4 linked regions of the Homo sapiens genome follow. The protein of the gene in region 1 interacts with the protein of each later gene in a biochemical or structural test. Each region holds a gene or a part of one and is shown in the gene's direction. Other genes may lie near its edges.

Region 1 (7,032 bases):
TCGGGTGCAGTGGCTCATGCTTGTAATCCCAGCACTTTGGGAGGACGAGGTGGGTCGATCATTTGAGGTCAGAAGTGAGACCAGCCTGGCCAACATGGCAAAACCCCGTCTCTCTTAAAAATACAAAAATTAGCCTGGCATGGTGGCATATGCCTTTAATCTCAGCTGCTTGGGAGGCTGAGGCAGGAGAATTATTTGAACTCGGGAGGTGGAGGTTGTAGTGAGCTGAGATCATGCCACTTCACTCCAGGCTGGGCAACAGAACAAGACTCCATCTCAAATAAATAAAATGGAATCATTTTATTTGACAAATGTCTATTTTTTTTTGAAAGGATCAATTCCCATTTAGTGTATATACACACATTATGTTTTTCCTCTTAATATATGATGGACTCTTCAATGTCAAGTGTTTTTCTACATAGATATTATAACAAGAGCATAGTATTTCATTGTTTCATAGTATGTTAATAAACTACCCATCATTGACAGTTGCTGTTTATCCATAGCTTTTCTGTTTTGTTTTTTTTTTAATAATTCTGAAATGTATTCTTAGAGGTATGGAAATGTTGACTATTTCTAACTTGGGCTTACTCTTTGCTTCTCTACCTCAACCAAAATCTGAAAATATGTAGGTAGTTCCTCGATGTCCTAGGTGCCCAGCTGATGAACCGCTTGCTATCATGAAACCAGAGATTGTGTTTTTTGGTGAAAATTTACCAGAACAGTTTCATAGAGCCATGAAGTATGACAAAGATGAAGTTGACCTCCTCATTGTTATTGGGTCTTCCCTCAAAGTAAGACCAGTAGCACTAATTCCAAGTAAGTTGGTGATGGTTTTTGGAGAACATTTCTATATATAATGTCATGGGTTGTGGGTCTGTATAATAGACGCTAGTAATCTTAACTCTGCTTCTGTTTGAAAGAGTGGTGAAGAGCTAATTTTAGAAATTGTTTGTTTGTTTGTTTATTGAGATGGAGTTTCCCTCTTGTTGCCCAGGCTGGAGTGCAGTCGCATATCTTGGCTCACTGCAACCTCCGCCTCCCGGGTTCAAGCGATTCTTCTGCCTCAGCCTTCTGAGTAGCTGGGATCACAGGCGTCCACCAACATGCCTGGCTAGTTTTTGTATTTTTAGTATAGACCGGGTTTCACCATGTTGGCCAGGCTGGTCTCGAACTCCTCAGCTCAGGTGATCCGCCTGTCTCTGCCTTCTAAAGTGCTGGGATTACAGGCATGAGCCCCCATGCCTGGCCAGAAATTCTTTATTTTTAGTAGAGATGAGGTCTTGTTGTGTTGCCCAGGCTGGATTCGAACTCCTGGGCTCAAGTGATCCTCCTGCCTCAGCCCCTTGAGTAGCTAGGATTACAGGCACGAGCCTCCACATCTGGCTGAACTGTTTTTTTAGGTGGCATTGTTCATTGAGACTGGTGAATCTGACATTTTGATGGGGGGTGGAGGGTTGTCAAAACGCAAGTAATGTTGGTGGCTCGTGCCTGTAATCTCAGCACTTTGGGAGGCCGAGGTAGGTGGATCGCTTGAGGGCAGCAGTTTGAGACCAGCCTGGCCAACATGGTGAAACCCTGTCTCTACTAAAAATACAAAAATTAGCTGGGCATAGTGGTGTGCACATGTAGTCCCAGCTACTTGGGAGGTTGGGGCATGAGAATCGCTTGAACTCAGGAGGCAGAGGTTGCAATGAGCCGAGAATGTGCCACTGCACTCCAGCCTGGGTGACAGAGTGGGACTCTGTCTCAAAAAATCAAAAACAAACCCAGAAGTAATGCTAAACTCTACTTCTAATTTATGTGAAAAATTAAGACAAAGGTAGAGTTCAACTTAGACTTTTTGGTGGAATGTGTTTTTAATGTTGCAAGGGTTAGCATCAATTAATTTATGAAATGGTCCTTTATCCTTATATTTTTTGATTACAGTTTTGATCTTTCAAATTTAATTGATTTCACATTTAATAAATTCAAATGTATAGTTTGGTAGAAGTGTAACATACCATGTAAGATGGAATTTGGGGGCTCAGAATGATTGGTTCATTCTTGTAGTAACAGCCATGCCATAACGGTGATATGTCGATATAGTTTACCCAAAAGGGTGTGTATATAAAAGTGTTCACATAAAATTTAAATCCTTATTACTCTCAGGAAAATTTCTTTGTCATATATATTCTCATACTGTCTGTTTCCTCCTCTAGTTTAGAATCAGAGGAGGAGAGAGAGAGATTTCAGTTGCATCAGATGTGTCCTTTCATAAGTGAGGGAAAGAGGAGAGGAAAAATATTAAATCCCTAGCCAGAGAATTGAATTAGACCCCACATCAGCAGTCAAGGCAGCCAGAGTAAACAGTTGGAAGAAACATGGAGTCAAGCTCTTCAATTTTGTGTCTATCCCATATCTCGTGGCTTTAGCAGTTAACTCAGTCTTACCTAATTAGCTGTGAAATTCTGTTAAAGTAGAATACAAGACAATTTGCAATTAAATGAAACATGAAAATTTAATATACAAATCTCTTTGTTCTTGAGTTGCTCTTCTTAAAGCAAAATCAAAGGCACTCTGCTTAAAAGCTTTTCTTTTTATTTTTTAGAGACGGGTGTCTTGCTGTAGCTCAGGCTAGAGTGCAGTGGTGCAGTTTCAGCTCACTGCAGCCTTCAACTCCTGGGGACAAGCAGTCCTTCCACTTCAGCTTCCTGAGTAGTTAGGACCAGAGGCGCACACCATGCTTGGCAAATTTTTAAATTTTTTTTTGTAGAAACGGGATTCACTTTGTTGCCCAGGCTGGTCACAAACTCCTGGCCTCAAGTGATCCTTCCTCCTCTGCCTCTCAAAGCATTAGGATTACAGGCATGAGCTACCATGCCTGGTCCTTAAAAACTTTTCTTTCAAAAGCTTTCTGTGGGATAGTATGATGTGTTGCAAAGATAATTAAAAAAAGAAACAGGTTTATAATAGCGTAGAATATGTTTATATGACTTTTTCCCTCCCCCCCTCCCCTCCCTCCCTCCCTTCCGTTTGTCCTTCCTTCCATTCATCCTTCCTTCTGTTAGTCCTTCCTTCTGTCCATCCTTCCCGTCCGTTCTTCCTTCCTTCCTTCGTCCATCCTTCTGTCTGTCCTTCCTTCCGTTCATCTGTCCGTCCTTCCTTCCTCCCACCCTCCCTCCCTCCCTCCTATCCTCCCTCCCTCCCTCATTGCCCAGGCTGGAGTGCAATGGCATGATCTCGGCTCACTGCAGTCTCCCGTGTTCAAGCAGTTCTCCTCCCAAGTAGTTGGGATTAGAGGCATGCGCTACCACACGCCCGGCTAATTTTGTGTTTTTAGTAGAGATGGGGTTTCACCATGTTGGTCGGGTTGGTCTTGAACTCCTGACCTCAGGTGATCCGCCTGCCTCGGCCTCCCAAAGTGCTGGGATTACAGGCGTGAGCCACTGTACCCAGCTCACCTTCTTTATATCAGGAGCTACTTAAGTAGAACATTTATGTACCAAGAACTCTTCTGTGCACTTGACTAACTCATTTAATCCTCACCACAGTCTTGTGGAGAAGTACTATTATCATCCCCATTCTGCAGACAAGGAAATTTGAGGTTCAGAGTGGGAAAGTCTGGGAAGATTGCTCAGGGGTAACCAGGTGATAGGAGCAGAACTTGAGCGTTTTATAAAAGACACTTAACTGCCCATCTGCTTGCTTGATGAAATGTAATGGCTTGGTTAAGTATTTAGTGCATGGGTCTTTTTTGGGAATTTGGAGCTCAAGCCCTTGTTGGATTTTTGCATAATGTATCTGTTGTGGTTTTATTAGCTTACTTCCTCCTCCCTTTTTCTAACTCTTATTTTTCACCCTATTTTAGGTTCCATACCCCATGAAGTGCCTCAGATATTAATTAATAGAGAACCTTTGCCTCATCTGCATTTTGATGTAGAGCTTCTTGGAGACTGTGATGTCATAATTAATGAATTGTGTCATAGGTTAGGTGGTGAATATGCCAAACTTTGCTGTAACCCTGTAAAGCTTTCAGAAATTACTGAAAAACCTCCACGAACACAAAAAGAATTGGCTTATTTGTCAGAGTTGCCACCCACACCTCTTCATGTTTCAGAAGACTCAAGTTCACCAGAAAGAACTTCACCACCAGATTCTTCAGTGATTGTCACACTTTTAGACCAAGCAGCTAAGAGTAATGATGATTTAGATGTGTCTGAATCAAAAGGTTGTATGGAAGAAAAACCACAGGAAGTACAAACTTCTAGGAATGTTGAAAGTATTGCTGAACAGATGGAAAATCCGGATTTGAAGAATGTTGGTTCTAGTACTGGGGAGAAAAATGAAAGAACTTCAGTGGCTGGAACAGTGAGAAAATGCTGGCCTAATAGAGTGGCAAAGGAGCAGATTAGTAGGCGGCTTGATGGTAAGAAAGGCAGTCGGACCATTTTGAAAGTATAAATGTCATAACAGTATTTCCAAAAAATTAGCTATTTCGGCAGGTTAATCGATAGGGTAGCTTTATGTAGTTGATTCTGTTTAGAGAAACTGTACAGTTCGTAATCAGAAAGGTAAATCTTCTGGTATCTTAACATGATATGGAGAAGGAAGTGTTTAATAGTGCTCTGTATGTTGTGTTTCTCTAGGGGATGGAAAAATAAGAATGGGTTATTAGCTGGCAGAAATGATGACAGATTTGAGTGCTTACTGTAGGTCAGCTGCTTTACATATGTTACCTGATTTTAATCTGAGGTAGGAACTATTACTCTTCTTCAGGTGGGAAAACTCAGGACCATAGAGGTTAAATACCTCATGCACAGTAACTACTAAGAAGTGGAAGAACCAGATTAAAATCCAGTCTATTTATGCTTAGAGCCTGCCCCCTTAACTACTATGCGGTGTTGTCTCAGATGTAGAACACATCTTTGTTTTCTCTGAGGACTTAGAAAAAACACGCGTGATTCTTCTCCACTGAATATAGGAATAGTTTCTACCCTGTTTAGAACATGCATAGTCTTTATCAATAAGTGTTAACTGACATGTGAAATCACTTTCTACTCTTTGGAAGCCGATGTTTTAAGTCCAAGTAGTCTGTATGGTGGAAATTCCTAACTTATGTTAAAAAAAAGAAAACCACTGTAACTTAGCTATAACAGTCTTATATAACTTAGAACTTTAAGTCTCATTCCATTTACCATACTTGGCGAAAACTGACAAATTTTAGACAACTGTATTTGAGTATTCCAGTCATTTGCTGTAAATACATTTTAGTTCAGTTGAATAAACCTTTGGCCTTTTTCATATTAGGCACTGTGGTAAGTTATGGAGACACAGTGATTAATGTTGTGTATAATTATAAATGTGAGTGATACTCATTAATACTTTGGTATAGGTGCTGCTGAAGAACAAAGTACTTTATTATTGTTTTGAACAAAACATCACACAAAAGGTAGATTTTTTTTTTTTTTTTTTTTTTTTTTTTTTGTGACGGAGTCTCACTCTGTCGCCCAGGCTGGAGTGCAGTGGCACGATCTCAGCTCACTGCAACCTCTGCGTCCCAGGTTCAAGAGATTCTCCTGCCTCAGCCTTCTGAGTAGCTGAAATTACAGGCATGCGCCACCTTGCTCGGCTGATTCTTGTATTTTTAGTAGAGACGGGGTTTCGCCATGTTGGTCAGGCTGGTCTCAAACTCCTGACCCCATGATCCATCCACCTCGGCCTCCCAAAGTGCTGGAATTACAGGCGTGAGCCACGGCGCCCAGCCCCAAAAGGTAGATTCTACTTGGAGATTAGATTACAGAAGGCTTTCTAAGGAGCAAAATATTTAACAATAAGTAGGGATTTAAAAAGAGCAGACGTGTTCACAGGGGAAACTAGAAAAAGCATAGAGGGATGCTTACGTTTGCAAATCGTGGCAGAAGTCAGAAAGTAGAAAAATTGCTACTGACTTAGATACACAGTTGTCTCTAGCGTATACAAAGTCTACCTATGCACTAAGACTTGCACTGGGAACTTTTCTTGAATGTCATTTTGACAGATGTGTCAAACGGACAATCTCTTTGCCCAGGAAACAGAGTTAACCTGGAACAGTCATTTTTTTTTAAATTTATTTATTTTTTGAGACGGAGTTTTGCTCTTGTTGTCCAGGCTGAAGTACAATGGTGTGATCTCGGTTCACGGCAACCTCCGCCTCCCGGGTTCAAGCGATTCTCCTGCCTCACTCTCCAGAGTAGCTGTAGCTGAGACCACAGGCGCATGCCCTCATGCTCAGCTATTTTTTTTTTTTTTTTTTTTAGTTTTTGTAGAAACAAGGTCTTGCCACATTGCCCAGGCTGATACCAAACTCCTGGGCTCAAGCAGTCTGCCAGCCTTGGCCTCCCAAAGTGCTGGGATTACAGGTGTAAGCCACTGTGCCCTGCCTGTGGTGTCTTGGGAAACTCATGAGTACTATGTGTCTGTTGTAATAGAGGGAAATAAGTGGTTTTCACAGTGATTTGTAGTGGACTGTGAAATTTTAGGGATTCAGGTCAGAGTTGTCACACAGGTTGTAGTCAGGGTGAGAACTGGGTCATGATGCAGTATGAAAAAGTTCGAGAGCCACTTTGGAGAGAACTTGAGATAGGCCACCTACCAGTGTGGTAACCAGGCTTTTGAGAATTCGTCTGGGATACGGTACAATAAATACTACATCTATTATGTGTGAAGAGATGTTAAGTTAGGGACATACTGTGAATTCAAGGATAGAAAACTTTTCCATCAGTTTTTAGGGATCCTACTCTTTCACTTAAACCCCAAATGGCCAAGCTAGGATTGATTTGGTGTGCTGTAGAAAGAACTTCATTGGTATTCATGGATTCACATTACATCTTAGAGGAGTTTTCAAAAGCGTCTTAGACTGTATGTGTATATACACACACATTCTGAAGCAGTAGGTGGGTCTTGGGGCCTGAGATCTCGGGTGAATGTAAATTTAGGTTCACAGGTGATACTGTAGATTCACAGTGTCTACAGAGTACACTATGAATTTGTGGTGACTACATTATTGACAAA
Region 2 (7,032 bases), on another chromosome or scaffold:
TGTGTTTGGGGATGGGTGCACACTCTTCATAAACTTTTTTTTTTTTGAGACAGGGTCTCGCTCTTTTGCCCATGCTGTAGTCCAGTGGCATGATCTCAGCTCACTGCAAACTCTGCCTCTCAGGTTCAAGAGATTCTCCAGCTCCCAAGTAGCTGGGATTACAGTCATGCACCGCCACGCCTGGTTAAATTTTGTATTTTTAGTAGAGATGGCCATGTTGGCCAGGCTGGTCTCGAACTCCTGAGCTCAGGTGATCTGCCCACCTCAGCCTCTCAAAAGTGCTGGGATTACAGGGCATGAACCACCATGCCCGGCCTTCATCAATTTTTTAAAAACGACTTTATTGAGGTATACTTTATGTATCACAAAATTTACCCATTTTTAGTATATCATTCAATGATTTTTAGTTAACTTTTTGAGTTGTGTGACAATTACTAGCTGTCGAACATTTTTATCACACAGTGAGATCCCTTATACTTCTTTAGTCAGTTCCTGTTCCTGCTCCCAGCCCCGGGCAGCTGTGGATCTGTATGTGTGTGTGTATATATATATATATATATATATATTTTTTTTTTTTTTTTTTTTTTTTTTTTTTTGAGACGGAGTCTTGCTCTGTCGCCCAGGCTGGAGTGCAGTGGTGCGATCTTGGCTCACTGCAAGCTCCGCCTCCCAGGTTCAAACAGTTCTGCCTCAGCCTCCCGAGTAGCTGGGATTACAGGCACCTGCCACCACGCCCGGCTAATTTTTTTGTATTTTTAGTAGAGATGGGGTTTCACCATGTTAGCCAGGATGGTCTCGATCTCCTGACCTTGTGATCTGCCCACCTCGGCCTCCCAACGTTCTGGAATTACAGGCGTGAGCCACCGCGCCCGGCTGGATCTGTATTTTTATAAATTAAAATAGGGTCCATTGGTTCACAGCTGATTGGAATCTGCTTGGTTCCATGTCAACAGCCAGACGACAGTAAGGTTTCCTCTTATTACCCACCTGATTCCCTGTCGATGGACACCTAGGTTGTTTTATCTTTATAAACTGCTGCAGTGGACACTGAGGCCGGTTTTTTTCTTTGTTTTTTTTTTTTTGTTTGTTTGTTTTTGAGACAGAGTCTTGCTCTGTCACCCAGGCTGGAGTGCAGTGGCGCGATCTCGGCTCACTGCAAACTCCGCCTCCCGGGTTCACACCATTCTCCTGCCTCAGCCTCCCGAGTAGCTTGGGACTATAGGTGCGTGCCACCATGCCTGGCTAATTTTTTGTATTTTTAGTAGAGACGGGGTTTCACCGTGTTAGCCAGGATGGTCTCGATCTCCTGACCTCATGATCTGCCCGCCTCGGCCTCCCAAAGTGCTGGGATTACAGGCGTGAGCCACTGTGCCTGGCCACTGAGGCCAGTCTTTGCCCGGATCCTCACTGTGTTCCTAGGATGAGGTTCTGGGAGGGGAATTGCTGGTCAGAGGTCGAGCCTGCTTTTGAAGCTTCTTCTACCAGGAGTGGAGCTGAGCAGGTTTGATAAGGTCTGAAGATTTGGGGGTGGAAATGCCAGGTCCCTTGAGAGACATGAGGGATAAGAGGGGGCCAGGCTGGCCTTGAGTGCCAGAGTGCAGAGCTGGGCTAGATGTGAGGACAGTCGGGGGTCAGAGCAGGGGCACACCGAGCTTCAGTTCCCTCTGGCTGCTTGGATGGAGGATCGTAATGTGAACAGAAAACACTAATTGAGTACTTACTGTGTTTCAGACAGTGTGTTGATAATCCCACTTAATCCCCTGACAACCCCAAGTAGGTAGACATATGATGAAGATGACGGCCTTGAGGACCAGAGAGGTTAAGTGATTTGCCTGAGATCACACAGCCAGATGATGGCAAAGCCAGAATTCAAACCCAGGCTGTGGGCTCCAGAGCCTAGCTCTTAAGCTCTTAAGCACTGGGCTCCTAAGAATGGGGATGAGGGGTTGAGGGAGGCTCCTCCACAGGGGCTACTCTGGGGGCCTGGAAGTGGGTCACAGAGGGGTCAGAGGCTATGTGGCTACCTCCCCATCCCAGTCCAGAGCAGTGTTTGAGTCATTAGACTGGGAACCAGCCCTGGTGAGCCAGCCAAGGGCCTTGGGCCCCATCCGGTCCTGCTGCCTGCCACAGCCAAACTCTTGTCATGTGAATGGATTTGGGGATGGAGCTGCCTCCATGAGTCCTTGCATCTGTGGGTGAAGGCACTGCCCTGGCTATAGTGTCCCTGGGTTTGAGTCCTGCATCTGCACCAAGACCTCAGGTGAGCCTGTCTCCTTCTGGGCCTCAGAGTACCTTGCAGCTGTCGGGGGAGGATGGATCAGGAGATGGCCCTGTACCTGTGTTGGGGATTATTGTTAAGCCCGTGGCAGTCTTCACCTCCCTGCTGAGGATTAATTTATCCAATTTTGCACAAGCTTATGAGTGCAGAAGAGGCAGACGGAAACAGAGTTCTGGCCAAGAGCCTGGAACAGGGCCTCGGGGTCTCTTTCCTATGCCTGGACCCCGTCATGTCTGCTCTTTGTCTGTCGGACCCCAGATGTCTGCCAAGCCCCGTCAGAGGCTGCTTCCCAGAAAGCCCTTCTGGGTGTCACCTTGCCCCGAGCAGTGCGTTCTCAGAGTTCTCCCGCCCTGATGTCCCTCCCAGCATGCCCAGCCCAGCCACAACAGGGCCTTGCTTCTAGTCATGTGTCTGGCTGTTTGCTGGGTCCAGGCCAGCCCTGGTAGGGCACAATGGGGGCCCGCTCTGCCACCCCATACCTCTCCCCAGGATATCTCATGCCCCAGTTCTCTCCCTAGTTCCACCAAGCACTGGCACTCCTTAGAAAACACAGCTCTAGACTAGTTACTGCCCTAGCTTACAGCACAGAACTCCCCTGGTCTCCAACCATTCATGGCTCCCTAGTGCTCCAAGATAAAGTTCCCTTGTCTCAGCCGGGTTGGGAGTTACCTTCTGCCCAACATTCACCTAGCTGGACACAAACATCCTGAGTGACCCGGTCAGCTCCAGGCAGGAGTCACTGCCAGCAGAGGCCTGGGATCTGGACTTTGCCTGCTGACAGGTGGAGCCCAGGCCGGCCAGAGGAAGTGCCTCTGACCTTGTCTCCTAGCAGCCACGGGCCATGTGGACATGCCTTTTGACCCTGGGCACTGACAGTGTGTGACAGCCTGCACCATGTGCTCCACAGGGGCGGCTGTGTGTGTCGGGGGTGAGGTGGGGAAAGCCTTAACTGGCTCAGGGGTGAGAGGTCAGGGAGCCATTGAGACTGGCTCCAGGTGTGGGTCCCCTGCTGGGTTGGGGCTTGTGGGAGGTGGGACGGGGCTGGGGGTCCATCCCCCTAGGGGGAATTTGTGGCCTACCCCGAACCCTGTTTGAGCTCCTTTCCTAACTGACTCCCCGTCCCTGCACCTGTCTCCCAGCAGGCCTTGCCTCTGCATGCTGCCCCTGCCAGGCTCTGGGGTCCCTGTGCTCCCTGCAGCTAGAAGGCTGGGATCAGGGGTCTTAACAAGCAGCCCTACTGTATGACCTTGGACAAGTCCAAGAACCTTCAGGTTCTTAACAATGTAAAGGGAGCAGTACTAAAAGCAGCTTCTTGGAATTGTGGGGATCCGATGAGTGAAGGCTTAAGCAGTGCATGGCACATAGTAGGCCCTGAACCAATGCCAGTTAGTGTTATTATTATCACCATTTAGCCAGATGCAGTGGCTCACGCCTATAATCTTATTGACTTTAGAGGCTGAGGTTGGAGGATTGCTTGAGACCAGGAGTTCAAGACCAGCCTGGGCAACATAGCAAGGCCCTGTTTGTTTTAGAGAAAACAAACAAATCACCATTTAGAGCACCTAACCAGTACCTGGCACGCGATAGGTTTAGCTCAACAAATGTTAGCAGCAATTACCCAAGGAGCCTGTGCTGGAAGTTTCTAGGATGTACCAGGCTATGGTTCCAAGTTCTGAGCATCTACCATGTGGTGGTCTGGAGTTGGTGAGAGACAGGATGGGGCTGACTAGGCCAGTGGGGAGCACCCCCCGCCATGGGGAACAAGCACCCTATCCTTGGCTTCCATGGAAGATAATTGATGCTGGGCACAGTGGCTCACGCCTGTAATCCCAGCACTTTGGGAGGCTGAGGCAGGGGGATCGCTTGAGTCTGGGAGTTCAAGACCAGCCTGGGCAACATTGTGAGACCCAAACTAAAAAAATTAGCTTGGCATGGTGGAGTGTGCCTGTCGTCCCAGCTACTCAGGAGGCTGAGGCTAAAGCTGGAGGATTGCTTGAGCCCAGGAGGTTGAGGCTGCAGTGAGCCATGATCATACCACTACACTCCAGCCTGGGCAACATAGTGAGGCCCTGTCTCAAAACAAACAAACAAAAAGAACCTGCTGAGGAAGCAGTGTTTCTGGCTGGGGGAGGACGGGCAGAGTGGCCATCTGGCCACAGATGGCGGTTTCTGTGCAAAACACATCAAGGCAGCCTTGGAAATGTGAGTGAAAGCACCTTCAAAGTTCTGGTCACAGCCTTGGGACTAAGCAAAGCCACCAAAAGTACATAAAAGACAATGACCATCACCCAGTGCCGGTGATGCTAGAAGGAAAGGGAATACGTTGTAGGGAAGGTTGTAAAGGGCTTTATCTTTTCCAGACTGGAGCCTGGCAGCTCGAAAACATCTTGCTGCCTTCATATGAGCTTTAAAACAAGCTGCAGAGAAACAACTCAAGAGGGAGAAATATATATATATATGTGTGTGTGTGTGTATGTGTGAGTGTGTGTGTGTGTGTGTATACATATATATATATATATATATATATATATATTTTTTTTTTTTTTTAAGATGGAGTCTCGTTCTGTCACCAGGCTGGAGTGCAGTGGTACAATCTCGGCTCACTGCAACCTCCGCCTCCTGGGTTCAAATGATTCTCCTGCGTCAGCCTCCCAAGCAGCTGGGACTATAGGCACATACCACCACGCCCAGCTAATTTTTGTATTTTTAGTAGAGGCTGGATTTCACCATGTTGGCCAGGATGGTTTTGATCTCCTGACCTCGTGATCTGCCTGCCTTAGCCTCCCAAAGTGTTGGGATTACAGGCGTGAGCCAGTTTGTTTTTAGAGACGGGGTCTTGCTCTGTCACCCAGGCTGGAATACCATGGCACAATCACAGCTCGCTGCAATGTTGAACTCCCGGGTTCAAGGGATCCTCCCACCTCAGCCTCCAGAGTAATGGAGACTACAGGCTCATGCCACCATGCCCAGCTATTTTTAAAACTTTGTAGAGATGGGGCCTTGCTACATTGCCCAGGCTGGTCTTGAACTCCTGGGCTCAAGTGATCTGCCTGCCTTTGCCTCCCAAAGTGCTGTTATTACAGGTGTGAGCCCCTGCGCCTAACCTTAGCACTGCCATTTTGACTGAAAACAGGTGCCCAGCAGCAGGGGCTACTCCCAGAATTGCCACTGCATCAGGCCCGTGGGTTGTTTTCAGCTGCCAGTGATAAGTATGTGCCCTGGGCCACCTCTCGGACAAGGTGTCTGAATTGGTGCCGACCAGCATCACATGTAATTGCCATCTCGCAGGTGCTGCTGAGGGTAATTCCGCACACCTGTAGCTCCGGGAAGAGCCTAGTGGGGAGGAGGAAACGTGGCTCTGAGGTTTATAGGGTCAGACGGTCAGTATGTTGGGAGCTGGCATGTGGAGGGGCACAGACAAGGGAAGAATGGGAGGTGGCATCAGAGCAAGTTTTGATGGAGGAATAGGAATTCACCAGGTGGAAAGGGCATTCCTGGTGGAGGGAACAGCCTGGCCTTCAATAGCTTGTGGTGTTCAGAAAGCAGGCAGGGAAAGGGAGGCCCAGGGAGACACCAGTTAGGGGATGGGGGTGGAGGCAGACGAGGGTGGAGGAAGCCATGGCTGGAGTCTGCACGGCCTCTGACTGGGGTCCCTGCTGTGGTCAGCCCTGTGCTGGGTGAGGCTGGGGTCACAGCTGGTTCAGGCCCTGACAGGAGGGGCCCCCAGCTGAGGCCCAGCCTCTAATTTGGCAGGGCAGGTGGATAGGTCTGGGGGGGTGGTGGTTAGGAAGCCTCCAGGAGGAGGCAGTGCCGGAGCTGAGCCTTAAAGAGCTTCGTGTTGTCCTCTCTGTCTTTGCACTCTGCACACACTCACTGAACTGCGACAAATGAGGATAGCTGGTCAGGGCAGAGGCAGGCCGGAGTTGGGGCTCACTGCTGTCCCCCACAGGCTGGGGCTGAAGGGCAGGCTCTGGGGCCGCAGAATGGGGTTTGTGTACCAGATTCTTCATATGGCAGCTGTGGGACTTTGGGCACGAGGCCTCCGTCTGAGCCTTAGTTTCCTCAAGAGGACCTGCGCCCAGGTGCACCTGGGGCTCCAGCCATGGGTGCGTCCCATTCCGGGAAGAGCTGGCACACACTTGTGCCCCCGGGGCAGCCATGAGTGCACAAAGGGCAGCCTGTGCCACTGCTGGATACACGACCAGCTGAGAACACGAGGACCGCCGACTCCAGTTAGGAGGATCAAGGAAGTGCCTGGTGGGAGCAGAACAGCAGGTGGGGTGCAGCCCAGCTCCCTGGAGGGATGGTGGGCACCCATCCTCACCCTGCTGCCTCCATTAGCAGGCCGAGAGGGTGTGCTCTGGAATCCCATGAGCACCTGTGCCACATCCTCCCCTGTGGCTGACCCTTCTTCACAGTTGGTGCAGCTTTGTGGTCTGTAGTGCAGGGATCAATTGGCAAATCCCTTTCCCACCCATTCCCTGGAGAATTGGGGTCCTTGGCTCAGATGACAGACCAACCTGAGTTGGAATCCCAGCTCCTTGGTGGCCGTCCTGGCCTCCACCCCCTCACTGCCTCCGCTCCTCCTATCCTGCCCACGCCCACTGCAGGGCCTTTGCACACACTGTTTCTTCTGCCCTCCCTTCCGGCCCACTCCCTCATATCATTCAGTCCTCCTTTCAGATGTCACCTCCTAAGATGGGCTGCCCTGACCACCTCATCTATAATGGCCCCAGTGCCTGGCACAGGATTGG
Region 3 (7,882 bases), on another chromosome or scaffold:
TGTGTGCATTCACTTCTCATGGCATTGCACAGGACTCCTTGGAGCTGTTCTGTTCTGTTCTGGAGCAGTCAAGATTTCTGAGATGCCATAGGCATCATGAGGCTAAAAGAACCCCCCAAACCTGGAAAATACTTGTGAGTGGTAATATATCAGTTGAGTAAAGGCCACAAAAGCAAACATTGGGTGGATACATTCTGCCTCAGTGACCTAACCCTGACCATGCACCCTTGGAGGTAGAATCACCAAAACCATCATGTATCCCCTGCAGGGTTCTGAGGGGGCTACTTGTAAGCCATTGATGGTCTCGCAAATGTATTTCTGTGAATCTCATGTTCCAGATTCTAAATGAGGGGGTCCTATGGTGAGAGGGACTTGTTCTGTCATTCAGAAAGGCAAGATTCCATCAACTCCCTGGATGGAGTCTTCTGTCAGTTGGCTACTCAAACAATAAAGTCCGCCTAGCCCATGATCTAGGGCAGGATTTTTTTTTTTTTTTTTTTTTGAGACAGGGTCTCACTCTGCCTCCCAGGCCTCAAGCATAGTGGCATGATCATAGCTCACTGCAGCCTTGACCTCCTAGGCTCAAGCGATCCTCCCACTTCAGCCTCTCAAGCAGCTTGGACTACAAGCGCACACCACAATGCCTGGATAATTTTTAAATTTTTTGTAGAGATAGGGTCTCACTATGTTGTCCAGGCTGGTCTCAAACTCCTGGCCTCAAAGTAATCCTTCCACCTCAACTTCCTAAAGTACTGGGATTACAGGCCTGAGCCACTGTGTAGGGTAGGATTTTTAATACTGTATTTTGGGTCACAACCCATTAATGGGCTGTGAAATAAATTTGGTGGATCCCAAAAGGAAAGGAAGGAAGGAAAGAAGGAAGGAAAAGAAAGGAAAGGAAGGAAGGAAGGAAGGGAAAAGCAAGGAAAGAAAGAAAGGAAGGAAGGCAGGAAGGAAGGAAGAAAGAAAGAGAGAAAGGAAGAAAAAGGAATGAAAGAGGGAAGGAGGGAGGGAGGAAGGAAGGAAAAGAGGATAGAGAAAATAATAGAAAACATTGTAGAACATCTTTTGTATCAGGAACTTATATATATTCCTGAGTAAACTAGGTCACAGTAAAAACTTATTTCTTATTATGGGTTGCAGTTAAAATTTTGAAAAATACTGTCCTGGGAAGACCCCTTGGTTTGCTTTCATTGCTACAGCTTCTTACATTTATTCATTCTATTTTTACCATCTGGAACATAAATAAGGAGAGTCATCCCTGATCCTTTTTGTCTTAACTTGGGTTAGGAAATATAAATGAATTAATCTTTCTGAACTTAACGTGTGTTTTTTAAAAAATCTCTAAAACAAGGGAACAAACTGAAAAGATGGCCTGGTCCCTTCTGTCTTTCTAACTCCACGCTCATGTCTCTCAGAATGTTCTCTGGGTGTTTACTGAAGAGAGGCTTCTCTTCAGTCCTACCGTGCTCATAACCATAAAATATTTAAGGGGGGAAAATGGCCCTAAAAAAGGGAAAAACAAACAGTCAGATGGGAGTGTTCCAGAGAGAGCTCAAAGGGCACATTTTTACCTGCAGAGCAGCCTTTAGACAGCTCAAAAAACCTCTGTCCATGGGGACAGGGTCTCTGGGAGACTCACAGGGACAAAGTGACCCACTCTAGCTCTGACACCACAGCAAGAAGTGCAGAGAGCATCAGCCAGCCTCGAGGACAGTGGCCAGGCTGCAGAAAAAGGAAGCCCAGAGATGAGGACAGGCTGCAGTCCTGTGGCCTGACTGTAGCCACAACTGCCCAGGCCATCCCCAGGTGCCTGGAGCCTGGCAGAGAGGTCAAGAGACCAGGCCCTGCCTTTCTTTGGACTCTGTGGAATGAAATGCACAGGAATGAAATGAATGAAACGAAATCCTCAGCCTAGTACCTCTGGAATCTTTCCATCAAAGTCAGATGCACCGGGAAGGGCTCTTTTGTTTCTATATAGATTTTTGAGTCTATAGCACTATAGCAGAGTATCTAGCACACCACCAGACTTGGCTAATATTAACCAAGCAAGTGCTTACGAGATATTCCCTGATGTAATTTGGCAGAGATGAGTACTGACAAAAAACAATCTGTACATCCCAATAAAGACCACTACCCATCCCAGGGATAAGTGAGAATATGAGAAATGTTAACTTCAGGGAAAAGAAAAATTAATGTCTTCTGCAGAGGTTCTGGTACCTGGTTTATGGAGAAGTCAAGATAGGGGAATTTAAAACTATTAACTCTGTAGTGCAGGAATGGTGCTTGTCATCGAGGCATCAAGAGAACACGGTGTGGGACAGCAACCTCCCTTTCCAGTTGTGTACCTGGCTAGGGAGAAGTAGGGTCCAGAGACAATTAGGGATTACAACAGAACACAGGAGAAGTGAATCTCATATGATGTTGCTTTTCTACTTTCACAAAATAACCTTCCTTCTAAGAATAAAACAGGCAAAAAAAAATCTATCTTTGTTCAATGTAAATACAAGATGGTTCATTAGCAGGTGCCAAACCATGCAATATAGAAAATGCATGCGCTACAAAGACCAGAGAATTGACAGTTCCTTTCCTGGAGATGTTGGAAAAGCCTGATGGAATAGGCAGGACCTGAAAGAGGAGAGGGTCTGGAGAGGTGGATGAGAGAGAACAGTTCAGGTATTGGGGGAATATGGGAAGAACATGGTTACAGACAAGGTGACGGGGCTGATGACGGCATGTGCTGGGGACCGTGATGACATCTATAATCTTGCCCATCTGCCAAACGCAGAACCTCTGAGTTCTTCAACTCTGTGAAAAGTGCATGCATGGAAATTTTTTTTTTGTTTTTTAGAGGCAGCATGAAACAGTGGGATGTGCAGAGAGAAGATCTGGGTCCAGTAGCTCTGACACTCCTCAGCTGTAGAAACCTTGACAACTCTGCACATCAGTTGTACAATGGAACGGTATTTTTTACTCTTCATGTCTGAAAAGGCTATGATAAAGATCAAGTAAGATATTCCAAAGAATTTTTAAATTATAAAGCAGTTTACACATGTGAATTACAAGTACCTCTCCTCCAACAAAGGCTGTGAAAAAAGACTAACTCTCAGTTACTACGGAATACTTAGTACGCATCTTCCACCATCTTTTGATAAGGTTTATTTGCAAGATGTCAGGCCAGTCAAGCACCACAAAAGTGACTTCTGAGTGTTCAACCTCTTTCAGAGGCTCATGGGACTTGCAGAGAATGTCCCAAGGTATTGGTGGTTGGAAATTTCCTCTTATGCTTTTCTTCCCACAAGAATCACCGCTAGCTTTCCCACGATGCTTTGGGCAAGGGGATCCTTCCTATTACTTTCATTACAGGTAGAGAATCCATCCATCAGACTGGCAGGACCTCTAAAGGGGCACTTCATCTGTTTCTCAGAATAAATGGTCCATTCCCAAGTTCAATCAAACGCTATGCCTCTCTTCTGTCTTTTGTTTAAGTCTTCCCAGAAAGTTGCCATGATACCTCCATAATGAACTGTTGCAGTGCTTAACAAACTTCACTGTTGGAAGGTTCTTCCTTCTATTTAATCTCAGTCTATTTCTTTTAACCCTATTATTGAGTTGTGAGGGGCTGGTTATGATGTAGTCCAGCATAGCTGTCTCAGAAATGGTTCAGAGACCATTGCACCAGCAGATTTGCTGGGCTCTAGCACTAGTCCTTCATTGATTAGCTGAGTCATGTTGGGCATATCACTTAAACTTTCTATGCCTCAATTTCCCACCCTTTCACCTTGTCCCTCTGAGCCATGGTTTCCTCCTCTGTAAGAGGCGAATAGCAATATCTTCCCTGGCTAAAGGAGGTCATCGACTGCTGGATGATTTTGTGAGCATTTCTATTCCAGAAGATTATGTTGTAATTACTATTTATTTATACATTCTCCCACTGCACAGTGAGTTCTAAGAAGAGGGAACCCCATCTTTTTCACCTGTCCTCTAGCAGATAGAGCGGTGCCTATCACACAGTCAAGGGAAGCAGAGAATAACTTTAAGCCAAAATTTCCTGTGGTGAGTTTTCCGCAGCCATCCACAATTCCAGGTCTCAGGAGGTAGTCTTTATCTTTTCCCCTCACGCCGATGCCACGGGGCGGGGGGGGAAGGCGGAACTCGGGACCAGGGACCAGGGAAGCTGAGACTCAGCTCCCTTGGGTGAGATTCGCGACAGGCCGGGAACGTGGTCAGCCGCGGTCGCTGCCAAGGTGATATCGGGTGGGAGCAATGACGCAACTCCGGTTTCCACTTCGGCCCCCCGGGATATTTTACCCTAATCTGTGGGATCAGGCTGAGCTTCCTGGCGTTCTGCAGCAGTAACAGGTTGGCGAGCGGAGCCCGGGATTTCCCATTCGTGCGGAGCTAGCCGCCGGTGCCAGTCGGCAGGCGCCCCCCAGCGTCCCGCGGACGACGAAGTCCTGGCCTGGTCAGCCCAGGTGGGGGTGACGCACCTGGCTCAGGCGTCCGCAGCAGGCTGGGTAGAACCACGGCAGGAAGGGTGGGGGGCTGCATCCCCGATTAACACAGGCTGAAGCGGGTATCCGCACCTATAATCATCGACAACTCTGTCCCACAGAGGGCAGAAGCGTGCCTTGCCCTATGGACGACGGTCGATGAAAATTTCACGAGTTAGAGTATCTAAGGCTACAGCGTGGCCTATAGGGTGGTTGATTCCAAGTCAAGATGGTTGCAGCGCCAACGGAGCTCCTGGCAAGAGAGGACTGGACCTGTGGGCGGGGCGGAGGGGCGGGGCGGGGCCGGGGCGGGGCCTGACCGAGAGGCGGGGCCAGGTGCTGGGCTGTCTCTGCTTGTCAAAAGGCGGCAGCGGAGCCGTGTGCGCCGGGAGCGCGGAACAGCTTGTCCACCCGCCGGCCGGACCAGGTGCGAACCCGGGAGCAGCGGGAAAGGGGGTCTCAGGATAGGGACTCGGGGTCGGGGCGTCTGGGATACCGGGGCCTGAGCGCCCGGCTGCGAGCATTAGAGTCTAAGTCTCAGCGGTAAACTTGGCTACTGAGGTCCGGGCTGTCGTGCCATGAGGCTGGGACACTAAGGGGCACTGAGGTTTGAGAAAGCTGAAGTTCGTGCCAGGCTGGCGAGGGGAGCAGCGACATCCTCGGCGCTTAGGAGAAATGCTCCGCTAACACAGTGCTTAGCACTTGGGCAACAAGAAGTATTTGTTTCCTTCTTCTGTCGGGGCGCCTTGGCATGGAGTGGAGGAATAAGAAAAGGAGCGATTGGCTGTCGATGGTGCTCAGAACTGCTGGAGTGGAGGGTGTGTAACCTTATTTATTGTCTTACAGGGCCCAGGTATGGTCACCTGTGATGGTGGAGTTGGGTCTTTTAAGTAATTTTTTTTTTTTTTTTTTTTTTTTTACTTTTCTTTGAACTACCAATGAGTTTAGACCTAATTGGCCCTATTTTTTTTCAGGACAGCCTGTCAATAGATGTTCAGAGGAACTCAGGGGCAAGCATTTAAATGAGGAAGGGGCTCAAGGAGTAGTTTCTGTTTGAAAAGTGAGGTGCCCTGGATCTGTGGGTGGTGGTGAGGAAGATTCAGAAGTATCTAGGAGGGAACAGCCTGTGGTCTCCAGGGCCAGTGTACAACTGCCCCTCCTTCTCTTCACCCAGGGACCAGAGTCTGAGACCTAGCCTGGGCTGGGGGAGCCTTAGGTCTCCAAGCCCAGACCCTTCTCACAGTTCCTCCTCCTTCTCCTCCTCCTCCTCCTCCTCCTCTTGTTCCTCCTCCTCCTCTATGCGTGCGGTGAGTGAGTCAGCCTCCTGTCTGGGCTCAGTTGCAGCCAAAGGGGCCAGAGCCCAGGCAAGCAGTTGGGCAGGCATTTTCTGAGCATTGCAGAAGCTCTCCTGGGCAGAGTTCAGCTCTGCTCCAGCTCCCTGCTGGAAGGTGGTCTTCCTCATGGGCAGGGGCTCAGATACCCAACACAGCAGTGCTTATGGAATGGCTATGAGATGATTCTAGCAGGAGGTGACCGTGAAGGGATAGTGGCTTTATGATAAATCTACATCTCATCTTTCTCCTGGGATAAGGAGGTGCATCCCAGCACTGCAGGCTTTTCCAGCCCTTCCTTCCATTTCTGCCTAGTGGTCTCATTAGCAGCCCATCTCTGCTAGTGAAGGGGGTGAGCAAAAGAAATTAGGAAAGTCTGGGGCCAGAGAAGTCATGGTGTTGGCAAAGAAGGCTTTAACTCAGGCTAGGGAGTGAGGGTGATTTGCTGAGGTAGAAATGGGTTATCTGAACATTGGAGCCTCAATTCTATGGACTAAGAGTGTTGTGTGTTGAGAGACCTGCCGTCCCTTCCCTGTCCAAGTGCTGGAGGGAACTGTGAGTCTTTCTGAAACAGTCTCAGGGCTGGCATGCAGCCAGACCAGAAGGTAGTAAGACTGCACATTTCTCCCTGGCTTTTGTTTTGGGTGCTAGAGATCGTTGAACAGAAGTAGCCCTCCCTGCAGAGTCCGTGGCCCCCACTCAGCAGCCTCTCTGGACCTATTTGAGAAGAGTCCTGGGAGGCCAATCCAGCTGTGGGGCTGACTCAAACTGCAAAAAGCTGGGGAATTCACAGTCTATGCTCTGGCTGGGTCCCATGGCTTTGGGTTTGGCTGGTCTTGATCAGCTGTGACTTGGACCCTTACCAAGCTAAAGGAGGGACTAGAAAATGGGGTAAGAAAGGAGGGGAAAAAATGAGAGTTAGAAAGCCTTCCCAACCCTTTACTCCTCTTCGGCAGAGGCCATCAGACTTTGTTTGTATAAACATTATGGAAGGTCGGGTGCTGTTTGGGGTGCCCTGATAGTTTGTGTTTATGGTTTCTCAGTATTCTTCCCCTATTTGACCTCAAAACTGATCTCTTTTGTAACTAAGCCCCAGAGGAAGCTCCGAGAGGACCTCCTGAACCCCTACACTCTACCCCCAGAACAGATAGCAGGTGTCCAAAGCCCAGGCTGTGAATGGAGAAAGGCCTGGGACCGAGTGGGCTACATCAGGTGGCTACTACATCAGGTGGTTATCTAAGACACGAAAGGGAGTTCCCATTGTTTCATTCCTTACCCCACATCCTAAGGAGGCACCGCTGTCCTGGCTGGAATAGGCATCTGGAACCTCTGCTAGAAACTCGCTGTTGCCTGTGCAGCAGTCAGGTCCTAGGGGCCAGAGAGCCAGAGACGGGAGGACCACCTAGATGACATTTGGTGTGTTGCTGAATAAAGAATTACAGGGCTCCAGCTTCCATTTGTCCCTGCTGCAATTCTGTTTTGGATGCAGGTAGAGGGAAATAAGGAATTGACCAGATTTGATTAAGAGCCTCTTGTGTGCCCAGCATGACTCCAGGCCCTCTGAGGGATAGCAGGAAGCAGAACCCACCAGACCAGGCCCCTGACTCCAAGACAGTTTGAGCCCCAGGGTGGGCAGCAGTTCTCAGGCTCTCCCTCCACTATTGTCCAGTTCTGAGAGGATCCAGCTGGGCTGAAGCCAGCCTGGCTGCCACTCTGGGCCACCAAGGCCTTGCTTGTCATTTTGCTTCCCTCTGATTTGTCCCTAACCTTTTCCTGTGTCAGTGCCCTCCTAGATATGCTAGAAAGAGTGCCTGTGTAATGTATCTTGCAAACTGGGATACTTCTGAGAGTGAAAGGGGATGCCATGCATGGTTATACCAGGACAATGGACATAAACCCAAACTTTCCAGGGAAAAATGGAATATTAATCACCCTAGTGATCATCACTCCAAACTCAGCAGAGGTCACAGCAGTGATGAGGGGATGATAAGGTTGGGGGAGGCTTAATGCTCAAGGGAAAACAGGGGTAGCTTAATTCTGAGGACAGCCCCCGACACC
Region 4 (3,996 bases), on another chromosome or scaffold:
ATTGTAGAAAATTCTATCAGACAGCATTGCTCCGGCCACCTGCCAGGTGGTCCTCCGGGAGTGCTGGTGCGGAGTGCTGGTGCCGAGTGCTCAGAGTGGGTTCGGGTTCAGTCCCTGAACCCAAGCATCCTCTGCACCCAGATCCTGCGGATCTGCACGCGGTACACGCCCGAGCAGGACACCATGACCTTCTCGGACGGGCTGACCCTGAACCGGACCCAGATGCACAACGCTGGCTTCGGCCCCCTCACCGACCTGGTCTTTGCCTTCGCCAACCAGCTGCTGCCCCTGGAGATGGATGATGCGGAGACGGGGCTGCTCAGCGCCATCTGCCTCATCTGCGGAGGTGGGCAGGGGGCCTGGGTCTGGGGGCTGGGCTGGGACGGGGGTGCAGCCCTGGAGTCTCTTCCAGGGAGCTCTTTCAGGCCACCTCTGTTAGGTATCTCTAGAGGGCAGGGTCTGGTCTGCAACTACACAGCAAGGGGGCCATGTGGGGCCTGGACTCCTGTTCCCGATTTCTGGGCAACACCCCTTCTAGGGAGGTTAAGAGTGAGGGTTTGAGGGTCGGACCAACCAGGGTCACCTCCTGGCCGATGCATGACCCTGAGCAGGTTGCTGAACTTCTCTGGGCCTCCGTTTCTGTACAGTGGGGGCGGTAACGGTCTCTAGCTCATGAAGTTGATGGGAGGATTACGGTGGTAACAGATACTGTGCAGGTGCCCAGAGCGAGCTCCAGTGCTTGTTAGTTGCTATTTTATTGTTGTGATTTCTGCCATTTCATCTGGTTTCCAGAATAACAGGGGGGAGTGGGAGCCTGCCTGGGAACCCTCTCCCTGCTTGAGGATGGCACTGCCCATTTGGGGTCCCATCCCACTAACTGGGCTCAGGGAGGGTTTGGGGCACCCCCTCACCCTCAGCTCCCGTTGCTCCCTTTTAAGGGCCTCTGTACCCTGCGGCAGCAGAGACCCCATGCCCTGCCCTGTGTGGGGAGGCGCCTGCGAGCTGCCCTCCTCCATGGCCTGGGCAGGCACGCCCCCCGGTGGCCGAGGCTGGGGGTGCAGCTGTGTTCCCAGCTGCTCAGGGGGTGGTTCTGCTTCCTCAGACCGCCAGGACCTGGAGCAGCCGGACCGGGTGGACATGCTGCAGGAGCCGCTGCTGGAGGCGCTAAAGGTCTACGTGCGGAAGCGGAGGCCCAGCCGCCCCCACATGTTCCCCAAGATGCTAATGAAGATTACTGACCTGCGAAGCATCAGCGCCAAGGGTGAGGCTCACAGACCTGGAGGGGTACCGGCCCCCGACACCTGGCCCAGGCCCCCACATCCAAGCCAGCACCCCATGTCTTTGTGCCAGGACAATACGACACCTGTCCCCATCTGTGTCTAGGCTGAGGTCCCCTAGTGACTCCACTTTGCCGAGGTGGCCCGCCTGTGTCACCTTTGTGTGGTAGTTCAGATCGTGGCTCTGGAACCAGACACGTGGGTGTGTGTCCTTGTGTGGGTCACTCAACAGCTCCTAGCTACAGTTTCCCTTCCGAGGGCGGGGATAACATTCGTGTTTACAGAGGGGTCGGGATGATCCCTAGCACACAGCACAGGGGAAGGAAGGGCTTGGCGTCTAGCCCAGGCCGGCAGTCTGGCCCTGGAGCCGGAGTTCGGGACCACTTTGCCCCATTGCCACCAGCCTCTGGACCTGGGGGCTTAAGAGAGCTGGCTCGTGTCAAAGAACTGAATCCCAAGAAAGATGCTAATATCAGCAGTATTGATCTTCCCACCTCGAGCCAGGCTTGCTGGGGCTGGGGGTGGGAGGGCTGGCCCAGCGTGCTGACCTCTGCCCCCTCCTTTCCTGCAGGGGCTGAGCGGGTGATCACGCTGAAGATGGAGATCCCGGGCTCCATGCCGCCTCTCATCCAGGAAATGTTGGAGAACTCAGAGGGCCTGGACACTCTGAGCGGACAGCCGGGGGGTGGGGGGCGGGACGGGGGTGGCCTGGCCCCCCCGCCAGGCAGCTGTAGCCCCAGCCTCAGCCCCAGCTCCAACAGAAGCAGCCCGGCCACCCACTCCCCGTGACCGCCCACGCCACATGGACACAGCCCTCGCCCTCCGCCCCGGCTTTTCTCTGCCTTTCTACCGACCATGTGACCCCGCACCAGCCCTGCCCCCACCTGCCCTCCCGGGCAGTACTGGGGACCTTCCCTGGGGGACGGGGAGGGAGGAGGCAGCGACTCCTTGGACAGAGGCCTGGGCCCTCAGTGGACTGCCTGCTCCCACAGCCTGGGCTGACGTCAGAGGCCGAGGCCAGGAACTGAGTGAGGCCCCTGGTCCTGGGTCTCAGGATGGGTCCTGGGGGCCTCGTGTTCATCAAGACACCCCTCTGCCCAGCTCACCACATCTTCATCACCAGCAAACGCCAGGACTTGGCTCCCCCATCCTCAGAACTCACAAGCCATTGCTCCCCAGCTGGGGAACCTCAACCTCCCCCCTGCCTCGGTTGGTGACAGAGGGGGTGGGACAGGGGCGGGGGGTTCCCCCTGTACATACCCTGCCATACCAACCCCAGGTATTAATTCTCGCTGGTTTTGTTTTTATTTTAATTTTTTTGTTTTGATTTTTTTAATAAGAATTTTCATTTTAAGCACATTTATACTGAAGGAATTTGTGCTGTGTATTGGGGGGAGCTGGATCCAGAGCTGGAGGGGGTGGGTCCGGGGGAGGGAGTGGCTCGGAAGGGGCCCCCACTCTCCTTTCATGTCCCTGTGCCCCCCAGTTCTCCTCCTCAGCCTTTTCCTCCTCAGTTTTCTCTTTAAAACTGTGAAGTACTAACTTTCCAAGGCCTGCCTTCCCCTCCCTCCCACTGGAGAAGCCGCCAGCCCCTTTCTCCCTCTGCCTGACCACTGGGTGTGGACGGTGTGGGGCAGCCCTGAAAGGACAGGCTCCTGGCCTTGGCACTTGCCTGCACCCACCATGAGGCATGGAGCAGGGCAGAGCAAGGGCCCCGGGACAGAGTTTTCCCAGACCTGGCTCCTCGGCAGAGCTGCCTCCCGTCAGGGCCCACATCATCTAGGCTCCCCAGCCCCCACTGTGAAGGGGCTGGCCAGGGGCCCGAGCTGCCCCCACCCCCGGCCTCAGCCACCAGCACCCCCATAGGGCCCCCAGACACCACACACATGCGCGTGCGCACACACACAAACACACACACACTGGACAGTAGATGGGCCGACACACACTTGGCCCGAGTTCCTCCATTTCCCTGGCCTGCCCCCCACCCCCAACCTGTCCCACCCCCGTGCCCCCTCCTTACCCCGCAGGACGGGCCTACAGGGGGGTCTCCCCTCACCCCTGCACCCCCAGCTGGGGGAGCTGGCTCTGCCCCGACCTCCTTCACCAGGGGTTGGGGCCCCTTCCCCTGGAGCCCGTGGGTGCACCTGTTACTGTTGGGCTTTCCACTGAGATCTACTGGATAAAGAATAAAGTTCTATTTATTCTACACATGCCTCCAGCCTTGCTGCCTCCACCCCCTCCTCTTGGCGTCTGGTCTGGGGGCTTGGGATGGGTTTCGTCATGTGCTCTGGGCCTGTGATGGCCAGGAATGAGCACTGGGGCCAAGGGGCTGGCCAGGGCACCCTTCCAAGCTGCCTTCTGAGGCTTACCTTGTGCTGGGGTCTTTGGAGATGCTGAGAAGGAGAAAGTCCTGCCCCTTGGGAAGCCCTCAGTCTGGGGATCCACACTGCCCATGTCAAGGAGCCCCAGTCTGGGAGTGGGAGAGAAGAGGAGGAAAGCTGCCCCCACCTTCAGGGAACCCCCAGTCTGAGGGAGGAAGCCGGAGCCACCCCTAGACATTTCTGGTCCTTGGGAAGCCTTCACCATCACGGCAGGAATGACAGATGGCACAGGAGCTGGGGTCAGGGACTCATAGAAACCTAACAAGAGGCCTGGCGCAGTGGCTCATGCCTGTAATTCCAGCACTTTGGGAGGCTGAGGTGGGCGGATCACTTGAGGT

The links.
Region 2: of the proteins of SIRT1 (region 1) and SREBF1, one has a biochemical effect on the other in vitro, tested with the Homo sapiens proteins (2 studies listed by BioGRID, with this or other methods).
Region 3: the proteins of SIRT1 (region 1) and VDR form a complex in vitro, tested with the Homo sapiens proteins (one study listed by BioGRID).
Region 4: the proteins of SIRT1 (region 1) and RARA form a complex in vitro, tested with the Homo sapiens proteins (one study listed by BioGRID and IntAct).

The regions. Positions count from the first base shown.
Region 1 is NC_000010.11:67,908,624-67,915,655, forward strand, and holds part of SIRT1 (NAD-dependent protein deacetylase sirtuin-1), read left to right. Parts: intron 1-632; coding exon 633-819; intron 820-3,850; coding exon 3,851-4,408; intron 4,409-7,032. UniProt on the Homo sapiens protein: NAD-dependent protein deacetylase that links transcriptional regulation directly to intracellular energetics and participates in the coordination of several separated cellular functions such as cell cycle, response to DNA damage, metabolism, apoptosis and autophagy.
Region 2 is NC_000017.11:17,826,985-17,834,016, reverse strand, and holds part of SREBF1 (sterol regulatory element-binding protein 1), read left to right. Parts: intron 1-7,032.
Region 3 is NC_000012.12:47,901,993-47,909,874, reverse strand, and holds the start of VDR (vitamin D3 receptor), read left to right. Parts: upstream 1-4,880; 5' UTR 4,881-4,920; exon of another isoform or gene 4,921-5,244; coding exon of another isoform or gene 5,245-5,311; intron 5,312-7,882.
Region 4 is NC_000017.11:40,354,161-40,358,156, forward strand, and holds the end of RARA (retinoic acid receptor alpha), read left to right. Parts: intron 1-141; coding exon 142-346; intron 347-1,102; coding exon 1,103-1,261; intron 1,262-1,848; coding exon 1,849-2,066; 3' UTR 2,067-3,483; downstream 3,484-3,996. UniProt on the Homo sapiens protein: Receptor for retinoic acid. Retinoic acid receptors bind as heterodimers to their target response elements in response to their ligands, all-trans or 9-cis retinoic acid, and regulate gene expression in various biological processes.